2 separate regions of the Homo sapiens genome follow, and region 2 is linked to region 1. Evidence: fine-mapped expression QTL. Tissue or cell type: whole blood. Region 1 holds a variant in brackets; the other region holds the start of a gene. All regions are shown on one strand. Distances are between the middles of the regions.

What was found. PIP is the estimated chance that this variant, and not a neighbour inherited with it, causes the effect.
Region 2: it holds the start of NEBL, and the variant in region 1 is fine-mapped to the expression of NEBL in whole blood (TOPMed, PIP above 0.99). The same link has a PIP of 0.9 or more in T cells, blood mononuclear cells and monocytes.

The regions. Positions count from the first base shown.
Region 1 is chr10:21,209,602-21,215,059 of GRCh38, reverse strand. It overlaps a transcript of NEBL not described here. Among named protein-coding and RNA genes, the nearest start is that of NEBL-AS1, 38 kb to the right of the region's middle. The variant G/C (reference allele first, on the strand shown) is at 2,682.
Region 2 is chr10:20,895,052-20,900,509 of GRCh38, reverse strand. It overlaps NEBL (nebulette), which reads left to right and starts at 3,199. Exons shown (of 28, transcript NM_006393.3): 1 at 3,199-3,385; 2 at 3,481-3,552. The coding sequence starts at 3,305.

The sequences.
Region 1 (5,458 bases):
CTCTGGCCAAGTGGAAGTTGACATCTCTTCATGGGGTCGGAGGGATCAGGGTGGGGTGAGGCAGGTGGCACAGGGAGGGCTTCACAGTTTATTGCTCCTCCCCGGCAGGGAAAAGGGAGCTAGATTCCAGGAGATGGGGGCAGAGAGACACAGCAGGGCCTGTCCTTTAATTTATTTCCTATTCTTTTCTAAAAGAACACAGGATATTCTCTTTAAAGACACTAATATTAGGAGTGTAGCCAAAAATACTGACAATGATTAATTCTGGGAGCTTCAATTAAAAGTGATTTCCATTTTTTCCCTTTTTACATACTATATATTTTCTGACTTTTCTGTAAATACCATGAATTAGCAGTTAAAAAAGAAGCACCTGAAAAACCCTTTCCTCACTGTACCCAACAATCTTGCATGTGTGCATGTGTGTGTAATGTGCATATGTGTGCATGTGTGTGCATGTGTATATGTGTGTGTAATGTGCATGTGTGCGTGTGTGTAATGTGTGCACATGTGTGTGCATGTGTGTATGTGTGTGTAATGTGCATGTGTGCATGTGTGTGCATGTGTGTAATGTGCGCGTGTGTGTGCATGTGTGTGCCATGTGTGTGCCATGTGTGTATGGGGTAGTTATACTGAGGAGATCCTTTTCCTTTCTTCTCTTCTTGTTTCTTTCCTTCCTCCCTCTCTTCCTTTTTCCCTTAGCACAAATGCATAAAGGCTTACTAGTGTCTTAATAAATCTTCAGAAAGTACAAAGAATGCTTTATTTGATACCACTAAAAATAAGTGCAAGATACAAATTTTTAATTTGAAAAAACATAAGATAGAAAGCACTTTTCTTTGCCTTTTGTGTGTGTGCATGATATACATATATGATATATATACATCTATATCATATACTTATACATATATATTATATACATATATATACATGAAATTCATGAGTAAATTACCAATTCATTGTTGAGAATTGAAGAAGACTAAGACAGAAGTTAAGATTTAATTATCTGTCTGTATTATCATCATTCAAGACACAAAACTGCTGAGTTTTATAATTGTGGGGAAAATCTATTGTCTGTGACAACTCCCTTTACCAGCCGATACTTACATAAAAGTCCAGGAGACACAGTTTATTGCTTTTAAGGAAGACCTTGTCCTTTCCCTCGCAAATGATGTGTGGTGTCTCGAGCTTGTTGGACTTCCTCTGGGCACAGAACATGGAAGATGAGCAGGTATATAATGTGTAGATATTCGTTGGTCCTTTTAAGAGAGGAATATTTGCAGTAAAAATAGAATAATTTATTTAAGATATAAACTCCACTTACATTATAGCTAAAGGCTGCTATAGAACCCATTTCTAAGGTTTTTCTCTATTTACTCTACTCCTCAAGCCCAGGTCGCCCCAGGCCTTCTCCTGCCCTGGTTCCCTGCCTCGGGACATTCTCATTGCTAAGTCCTGAGAGCATCTTCATGAATGCCTCATTAACACTTCCTGGCTATTCATTAGCAAAGTTAGTGTCTTCTCCTGGTTACTTAAAAATCTCTTGGTCAGCCCTGTAACTTGCACACAAGGAGGCATTCAGACAGTGTTGTTTTGAAAGTGCATTTTATAGACACTGTTCTTTAGACTGAAGCTTCCCCCGTCCTCCGCTCCTCTCCGGTTTTCCTCCGCCTGCACTCAACCAGCTCTACATCTCCATCTGTTTTGAATCTTCTCTAATGTCCTTTCTCTGGGCACAGGAACCCAGACACTCTACATTCTGATTTTTTAAAGGGAGTCAAATCAGTCTGCAACAAGACCAAATACAAGTTCAAGGAAACTGAACCATCAACTGAAATTTGCCTGTCAAGCTTATCTTTTTCTGCATTCTTTGAGTATTAGTGAGTAAACAGAAATGGCATAATAAACTATCATTTCAATCCAACTTTGGGCAACCATCAGCTTGAAGGGCTTGGGTTATTGTGAGATAAAGTGAGATGAGACATGGCTAAATTCCAACCGGTGCCTGGCACATGGTGAGCACTCCGATATTAATTCATTGCCTTCGTTTTGTCACGGTGGTCTGGTTACATTTGTAGCTGCTACCGTGTAGCTCTGCACCATGAAGAATCACTAAGAACTTAATGAGCTGTATTTTCTCCAAAGCCATAGGCTTTGTCAACACAATGCTAAACATTGTGACAATTTTTGACTGAATCGAGTTAACTGACTGAATGTTTTGAAGTATTGACACAGCAGCTAAAGGAGTGAGAACGGTAGTCAAGCCAGCTATTTCCTATGATGAAAAGTGGCAAGTATTTCAAAAATAAAACTAGTGTCGAAACACGAGAAGCCAGTGGAAGTCGCAAGTGGCCACAGGGCCTTTGGAAAGCACTCACTGAAGGACCTGGCTCAGGAGCCAGGTGTGGTAACAAAAATCTGAAGATGTCCCTGGTCATCCAACAAGCTAAGCAAAGCTGAAGAACCGGGTGATTCCACCCCTTTCACCGAAGCTTCTGTAATTTACTTCCTTAACAGAAAATGGGAAGTTTCACAAACTCTTGAGAAATGACGAGTGTTGGTTTATTCCTTCCATCTTTTCAGCCGTTGCTTGCCTTTCCTTCTTTCCTCCCATCACTCTGAGGAGGGGTAGGCGCTGTCCAGACGTTAGCGCTGGGTGTTCGAAATCTTTGCAAGGAAAGTTG[G/C]GGCCAGGATTGCACTAATTGGGAAATCTTTGTTTGTCAGTTTAATTTTCAGTGAATTTCCTGAAAGATTAAAAAGATTGTGTTGTACATTACAGATATATATACATTTACAAGTTGTTATATATGTATATTATATGTAACATAATAAATCATATATTTGTATTATCTTTCTGACATATTATACATATATTGTACACAGTATTATATGTAGTATATATAGTGTTGTCACTCAGATGTAGCGATAATACTGTATATATACTGTATCTAACATAGTATATATTATATGTATACTGTGTAATAGTTGTATAATATGTAATAATAATATATGCATAACATTTACATATGTACATATGTTTATAGATATATATATCTGAAGAGAGAGAGAGAATTGAGTGATTTAAAACCCTGAAATGTATTTACTAGCATTACATAAGAGCAAACACACTTGATAGTAACTTGGTAGGTCATTTATGAAAGATTTCTGACCTCAGCATGAGTGAGAAATTCTGTGCTTCTCCAATTACCATTGGAGAATGAATGAAGCCATGACGACAGATCCGTTTCCATCATCACAATCACTGCTGGTTTGAGGATCCTTCCCCAACAAAAGGATCTCCCTTGGCAATGGCCAACTTCATTGACACAACAAACATTTGTCACAACAAAATTTTACCTTTACAAAAGGACTCAGACGGGTTTTTGAAGTTGACGTAACTGGGTTTGGCATCTCTGTTCAAGAGGAGATGGCAGCTCATTGGCTTTCCTCATCAGGGAAGCAAGATCTTTAAAGGGGCCAGTCTTTTCTCCAGTTAACTGGAGAGAGGGTTTTTGACTGCACACATCAGCTAACTCAGGAGAAAAAAAACCTTAGGGTTTTGTTTTGTTTTTTGTTTGTTTGTTTTTCTTTTGTGATAGAGTCTCACTCTGTTGCCCAGACTGGCAAGGTCACAGCTCACTGTAGCCTCCACCTCCCAAGTTCAAGCGATCCTCCCACCTCAGCCTCCCTAGTAGCTGGGACTACAGGTGTGCACCACCACACCCAGCTAATTTTTCTTATTTTTTTGTAGAAACGCGGTCTTCCTATGTTGCCCAGGCTAGTCTCAAGCTCCTGTTCTCAAGTGATCTTCCAGCCTCAGCCTCCCAAAGTGCTGGGATTACAGGCATGAGCTGTTGCACTCGGCCAATGACTATTTTTGATTGTTTTCATGCCAGGATTTTCCTTTCCTTTCCTACATAGCATTGATAAGGATGATCAAATCGAGACTTAGTCTATCTCCTCTTTCTGCGAGTGGCCTTTATTCCTACTGAATCTGTGACATGTTGCCCATGTCAAAGAAAACGTGACTGAGGATATGGATCATGGTTTTCTGTTTTTGGGTCATAATATTTTACAGTGTTTCCAAAGAACCTAGAGGGCATGCATGAAACAATAGGTGCAACCCAGCTAAAATTAACTCCTACTGGCTAGGATAGCTGTAAATGTAAAGCTACAGGTTTTTTAAAGACTTACAGTAGCTCATACATAGCGTGTACATTTATAAGCATTATTGAGTTGGAAGATAATGACAGTCACATGTTGAGAATAGAATATGATATCTTAACGTATGTTCCTCCTCTCTGTGAGTCTCAGGAGTCCAATTATTGAAACTTAAAAATGCAGCACTTTAGTGCATGACTCCAGAACCAGTGGGAATAAGTAACAACAAAAATTTTAATCTATTTACAGGCCTTACAAGATACATAGAATGATATGGAAAAAACATACTTGACACAAACATTTAATTGTATGATTTTGCTTTGAATTTTTGTTTGTAAAAATATACATATTCCTCCTTAAAAATGGCAGCAATGTTATATTGCCTAATGTTAATTTTCTTTCTGCATATTTGTATAATGAGATAAATGTCAAATCTGTTAGAAGTATATGTATTGGACTGGAGAGTTTGGTTTTCTTAGTTAGGATGTTTTTCTTTCTTTCTTTTTTTTGAGACAGAATTTTGCTTGTCACCCAGGCTGGAGTGCAGTGGTGCAGTCTCGGCTTACTGCAACTTCCGTCTCTCAGGTTCAAGTGATTCACCTGCCTCAGCCTCACTAGTAGCTGGGATTACAGGCGCCTGCCACCACACCCAGCTAAGTTTTTTGTATTTTTGGTAGAGACAGGGTTTCACCATGTTGTCCAGGCTGGTCTCAAATTCCTGACCTCAGGTGATCTGCCTGTCTTGGCCTCCCAAAGTGCTGGGATTAGAGGTGTGAGCCACCATGCCCTGCCCATGATGTTTTTCCTACAAGGAACAGAAACCTTGCTTCAAATGATCTTAAACAATAAGGACATTTTGAGGCTCGTGGAACTGGAGGTATTGAGCAATTGGGGCTTTAGGGTCAGCTTAACCAAATGGGTCTGGTTTTGGGGAAATTCTATCAGCTGTATCCTCTTTTTGGTCTTGGTTTAATTCTAAGGTCCCTCATCCTGACAAGCGTGACACCAGTTCCTGGCTCCACAAGGATAATCGTGGAGTGCAAGGAAAGACAGTGTCAGCCTGGATAGCCTTCCCCAGCAGGGCAACAATCCCTTCTGGACCCAGGCACTGATTATCTTTCTGTTTCTCCATCTTTGACGTGTAGGCCTCTGTTCTCATGTTTGTTACCTCGTGATCTCAAGATGGCTCCTGGTCCTCCAGGAGTCACAACTGTGGTAAAAAAAAGAAAAAAAAAAAAAAGAAAAAAAAAAAAGGTCAGGTGCCTAATTGTATCAGGAGATAGGAGAAACTTCCTGGAAG
Region 2 (5,458 bases), 310 kb after region 1:
GACGGGGTTTGACCATGTTGGTCAGGCTGGTCTCGAACTCCTGACCTTGTGATCTGCCTGCCTCAGCCTCCCAAAGTGCTGGGATTACAGGCGTGTGCCACTGCGCACCCAGCCAGTGCTTTCTTTTTATTAACTTCTGTCAACTCAGTTTTTCTGTTTAACTATGAAGAATTAGAGGTAGTGAGGGGTTGAATAATTTGCCCTAGAGGACATGGCAGAGCCAGACCTGGACTTTGAGAGTTTAGCCATAAGTGATGTCTCTTGGTCTCATTCTGTATCAAGGCATGCGTAGAGTACTAAAGTAGAAAAGTAAACAACATAAAAGAAGTGCCCAATAAGTAAAAGCTATGAGCAGCTACAGAGATTTTGCCTTTTGGAGCAACCCAAGGTGAAAATATCTATTAAAATACATTAAGCTTGGTTTTTGGAAAAGTCGATAGGGGATTTTGAAACATGATAGCTGTCCATGAGGAACACTTTCTTCATATTCTCCATGTCATATTTTAGAGCTACTGACAAGAAAACTTTGCTGTGATGAAGTGCAGGGCTTAACACTTTTTTAGAGAAAACTTTGCATGAATTTTATATTATAGGTGAGAGGAAAAAAGATGTATTCAATCAAAAGTAATGGTGTCTCTAGCTTGCCAAACGATCCATTAAAGACTTCATCCAGCAAGTGTTGAGTGATGAGTATTTTATTTCCAATTCTATCTTAGTATGAAGAATATTTTATTCACCATTCTATCTCTAACACCAAGCACAGTGCCTGGCATAACAACATTTATTTGTTGAACAAATGAACACAGGTCTCTAGTTAGGTTCTGATCCTAGTGCTTCATTGAATGGCTTTGTAAATGAGACACATAATTTTTCATAGCCTTCATTTTGTCATCTGTGAAAGAGAGGGCTTTAGGTGTATTGATTTCTTAAGGATCCCTTTGGCTTGAAATTCTGATTCTAGAATCTCAAATGGAAAATTTGTGTTCACATTGCACGTGGTGTTTGGTTTTTGTTTTCAAAAGTTTGTGCATTAAATCTCAACAGCTTATTTTCTTGCAGCACAGTGAAGAGTCCCTAAGAACATATTACGTGATGGGAAATGAGAAATAACTGCACTGCAAGCCTGATGAAGGTAATTCACCTTGGGGAATAGGTGTCACCCTGAGTAACACCAGTACTGTCTCCTCAAATATGAGCCAAAAGGTGTGTCTCAGGCAGTTTTGGCAAGATTTTCTCCCTACACTCCTAGAAATTTGCAAGACAAGTTTACAGAAATTACTCCTCCCTATTTCCAAATAAAGATAATGTAATAGATCTATAGAATATTAGAATAGTCTTCTGGCCAGCAGAGGACTTGAGGGAAATAATTGGAATGCACACATTCTTTCCTTTTACGGAACAAATAAAATATACAAGGAATGTCCTTGTGGAATCCACTACACTGGGCCAGCATGATATGGCTGTAATCTTAGAGTTGTGGTTTCCAAGTTCAGCATGCTTGAGGCAATTTCTTTTTGGTATTTTGTTGGTGAACAGGATATGTGATACCATTAATTTAGCCTGTATCAAAAACTAGTTCAAGACCAACAGCTCCTTCTAGAACACAACATTTTAGGAGAATAGAGCAATGTTTCCCTAAGCAGTCGGTCATATTTCACAGAGGAGTGTTAGTTTTCTGGGGTAGTGGGTATGATTAAAAAAAAGATAGGTAGATAGGTAGGTAGGTAGATTAGATTAAATTGGATTAGATTTGATGAGATAAACAGGTTTGTGTTCAGGGGAACACGAGGTTAAGCAAGCCTAAGCAGGTTTTTTGGTTGAAGGTCTTCTCAGAACTTCTAGTATGTCAATATGCCTTGTAGATCTCTAAGTGGCAGGGACAGAGACTGGGGTACAGATTTCCCAAACATATTTGTTTAAGAAACCTGCTTTTTTCCCCCAGAATCTTTTGTGGAACTTTTGCCTCATGGAACACAATTTCAGAAATAATTTATACGTGATGACTGTGTAGAATGTTTTTCTTGTCAGGATTTTCAGTTTAGGTAAGGCCAAGGCATTTTTTTTTTACAGTACATTGAAAACTAGATATGATATCAAGAGAAAAAATTATGCTTGGCTACTTAGAATGACATACTATTTTTAATAAATTTGTATTTTGTATCATCAGTATTACTATTCAGTGTAGGGTATTTTTTATGCCCAATGCTAATGTGCTATGACTTGGTAAAATTAATTTACCCTAGGATTTACATAACCAGATTAATAAATTGTGAGTTGTAGGGAGTCTTGGAATTGCCTGAATTGACATTAAAATATTTGTTTTGAGAAATTTTTTTTTAACCTTGGTTTTACGTAACCAAGGACATACACTACATTATAAATATTGTGATGGTTTATTTTTCCAAACTTTTCTGAATGTGGGGTGCCCATTGAGTAATAATGCAAATCACCAATGACTTTGTAAAAATTGACATGATGAGTAGAACTGCAGAATTCAAAGATGATGATGATGATTTTTGAAACGATGTTTCCAGAATTGTTAAATTATGTATCAACATATGTTAACTGCAACTTCTCATGTTTAATGATGTTTACAATTAATACAATACCATACTCGCCAGTATAATACTAACAGTCATAATTAACTCAGAATAGATTCTTTGAAGTGGTTCAAAGGGCTTTTCATAATAAATAAGTAGCCTCTAATCAGCTAATATAAAGTGGGTATTTTTTAGGATGTGAGAAGTACTGGTATGTCTGATAAAACATATAATTTAGGTTGACAAAATGAGTTTGAATGATCCAGATTCACTACCCCAAGTCAGAAGGAAGTCTGACATTCCAGTGAAAGCTTTATTTAGACAGAGACAAGGAATCTTTGAGATAACAGGCTTTGGACTGTGCTATCTTGAGTGTTAGAGCTGAGTAGTTTTCCCAGAATCTCTAAGTCCTTTTTATGCTCTTTTATGAATGAATAGAATTAGTAAAAGATAAATAAATTTTTTCTTTTGGATTTCTTAACCAGTGGAAAAAATGTTGACTTTAAAAGTTCATAAAATCAAATTTTGCTTAAGAATATGTTATTTCCACTTGTGAGGCCAGCCTGGTAGACCTCTGGGATCCTTTTCTGTTCACTCACACACCACTGAGATAAGGAGTGAAGTGTGGGCTAAATAGGGCTGAGGCTTGGGCAAGGGCATTTCTGCCAGAGCACCAGAGACGTCAGCATCTCAAGGGCACTGTGGTATGGAAAAGGACGCCACATGAGTAAATTTTAAAAATATAAATATTTTAAAGGGTAAAAATGAGGGTCCCTGTATTTGAGGATATAAAAGATGAAACTGAAGAAGAAAAGATAGGGGAAGAAGAAAATGAAGAAGACCAGGTGAGTGAGAAAACACATACTCAGACCAGCGTTTGTTCCTCTAAATTGACAATGAGAAAAATGTTCTTTCTGTTCTTTTCTTTTTTTTCAAATAGGTCTTCTATAAGCCTGTTATTGAAGACTTAAGCATGGAATTGGCCAGAAAATGCACGGAACTCATTAGCGATGTAAGTGGCTGGAGTAATTTTTGTCTTATTTTGCATTGCACCTGTGGTATTATTATGTTATAGAGTCATAGAGCTGTGGGGGAAACCCTGAAATCACCTTTTAAAACACAGTCACTTTCCAGATCATGGAACAAAGTCCTGAAATTTTCAGTGATTTCCCCAAGGTCACCTATACAGAGAATTTCTGCTAGAGCAAGTCTCCTCATTCTTAATCCAGAATCCTGTCCCTTATGAGTTTTGCTGTCACGCTGGCATGAAATCATAAGGCATTGAATTGCAGTATTTATTCCATTTGAGAACCCCCAAAGATTTTAAAATGAATATAATGATGTAATTTGTCTTGGGAGGCCCTCTATCTAAATGAATAGTCATTTTTTTAACATTTTGGGGCCTTCTGAACAATCTAATGAATGGACTTGTCTTCCAGAACAGGAAAATGCATATATATATATATATATATATATATATATATATGCATATAATATTTATTTACAATTCAGGATTTGTTGATTACTGACCTGCTTGCTAAGAACCCTGATATTAGTGCAAGGATATTAGTGCAAGGGGTATTTTTGTTGTGACATTTTTTAGTAACTGGGATTGGTTGATATTACACTTTAAGGGAATCCCAGAATTATTGAATGATTGAACATATAATTTTATGTTAAATATGTAAGCTAGAATTCAAGAAGTACAAGGAAAAATGTTGCTCACCAGGGATGAGAATTTAGATGATCCTCATTAGCGGTTCTAAGAGGATTGCTGGTCCAGAGAAAGGGTAACTCCTGTAAAGTGAATATGTGCCTGTGTCTTCATTTAGAGAGATGAGCACAATACTGGTTGTTTCTGTTGTTGATAATAAGCAAAATGATCAGAATGTTTTGCACGTTTGTTTTCTAACGGAAGTCAGTCCTGGGCAGGAGGGTAGTGGTCTGGCACATCCTCCAAAGTCAACCTGCCTGGGTTGACTCCCCAGTAACCTTGGGAAGGTTATGGAACCTGGCTTGGCTCCATCCCTCAGCTGTAACATTTATAATAAGATTAAATAATGGTAATGCATATAAATGCTGAATAAACTATCTGGAACATTGTGAGTACTCCATAAATGTTAGCTGTTATTAACTACTCTGTCTGTTACTTCCTTTTACATCCATCCAATCACAATTTAGATATGACTGGCTCTTTCTGACAAACCAGAAGGCAAGCACAAAGGATGCTGGTGGAAATCATACCCTTTCCCATATACTTGACATGTGATGTAATTACCCTTTAAATTAAGTATTTCTTTGTGCTATTACTTAATAGTCATTAGCTATTGTATGTGAAAGTTCTCTGTAAATTGCAGTAATAATAAGTGACAATGACAACAACAACAACAATAACACTATTGGCAACAGTTAAGATTTAGTGACTATTGTGTGCCAGGGATTGCAGCTTGCGAGGTAGGCGCTAGGCTTTTTCTCATTTCTGAAGCGAGGAGATAGAGGCACAGAGAGGTTCAGTACCTTGCCTGGGTCACACAGTTAAGCAGAGGCAGTAATAGTTGAACACAGAGGCCTCCCTCTTTACACTGCCAAGTTATCTCTCCCTGTAGATTTCCATGAAATGTTGTTCTTCGCCTTATTATTATTATGTTACTATTATTAGTAGTAATGCTACCAACTAAAACCCTGAGTTCCTAACCTCTTCCAGCTTTGATATATTTTTATTGAAGTGCAATTATAGCTGAGCTAACTTGTGTTACATAAACCATCAGGACTAAAGTGGTAACTGTAGTTAGTAGGTGATTTGGTTGGAGTTGTTTTGGATAAGATTGTCTATCAGTGACTTTAAAACCAACATGTTGTGAGGGGTGGTGGCCTTTATCATTATGCAAAAGCTAAATCCATACATTTCACACCCACGT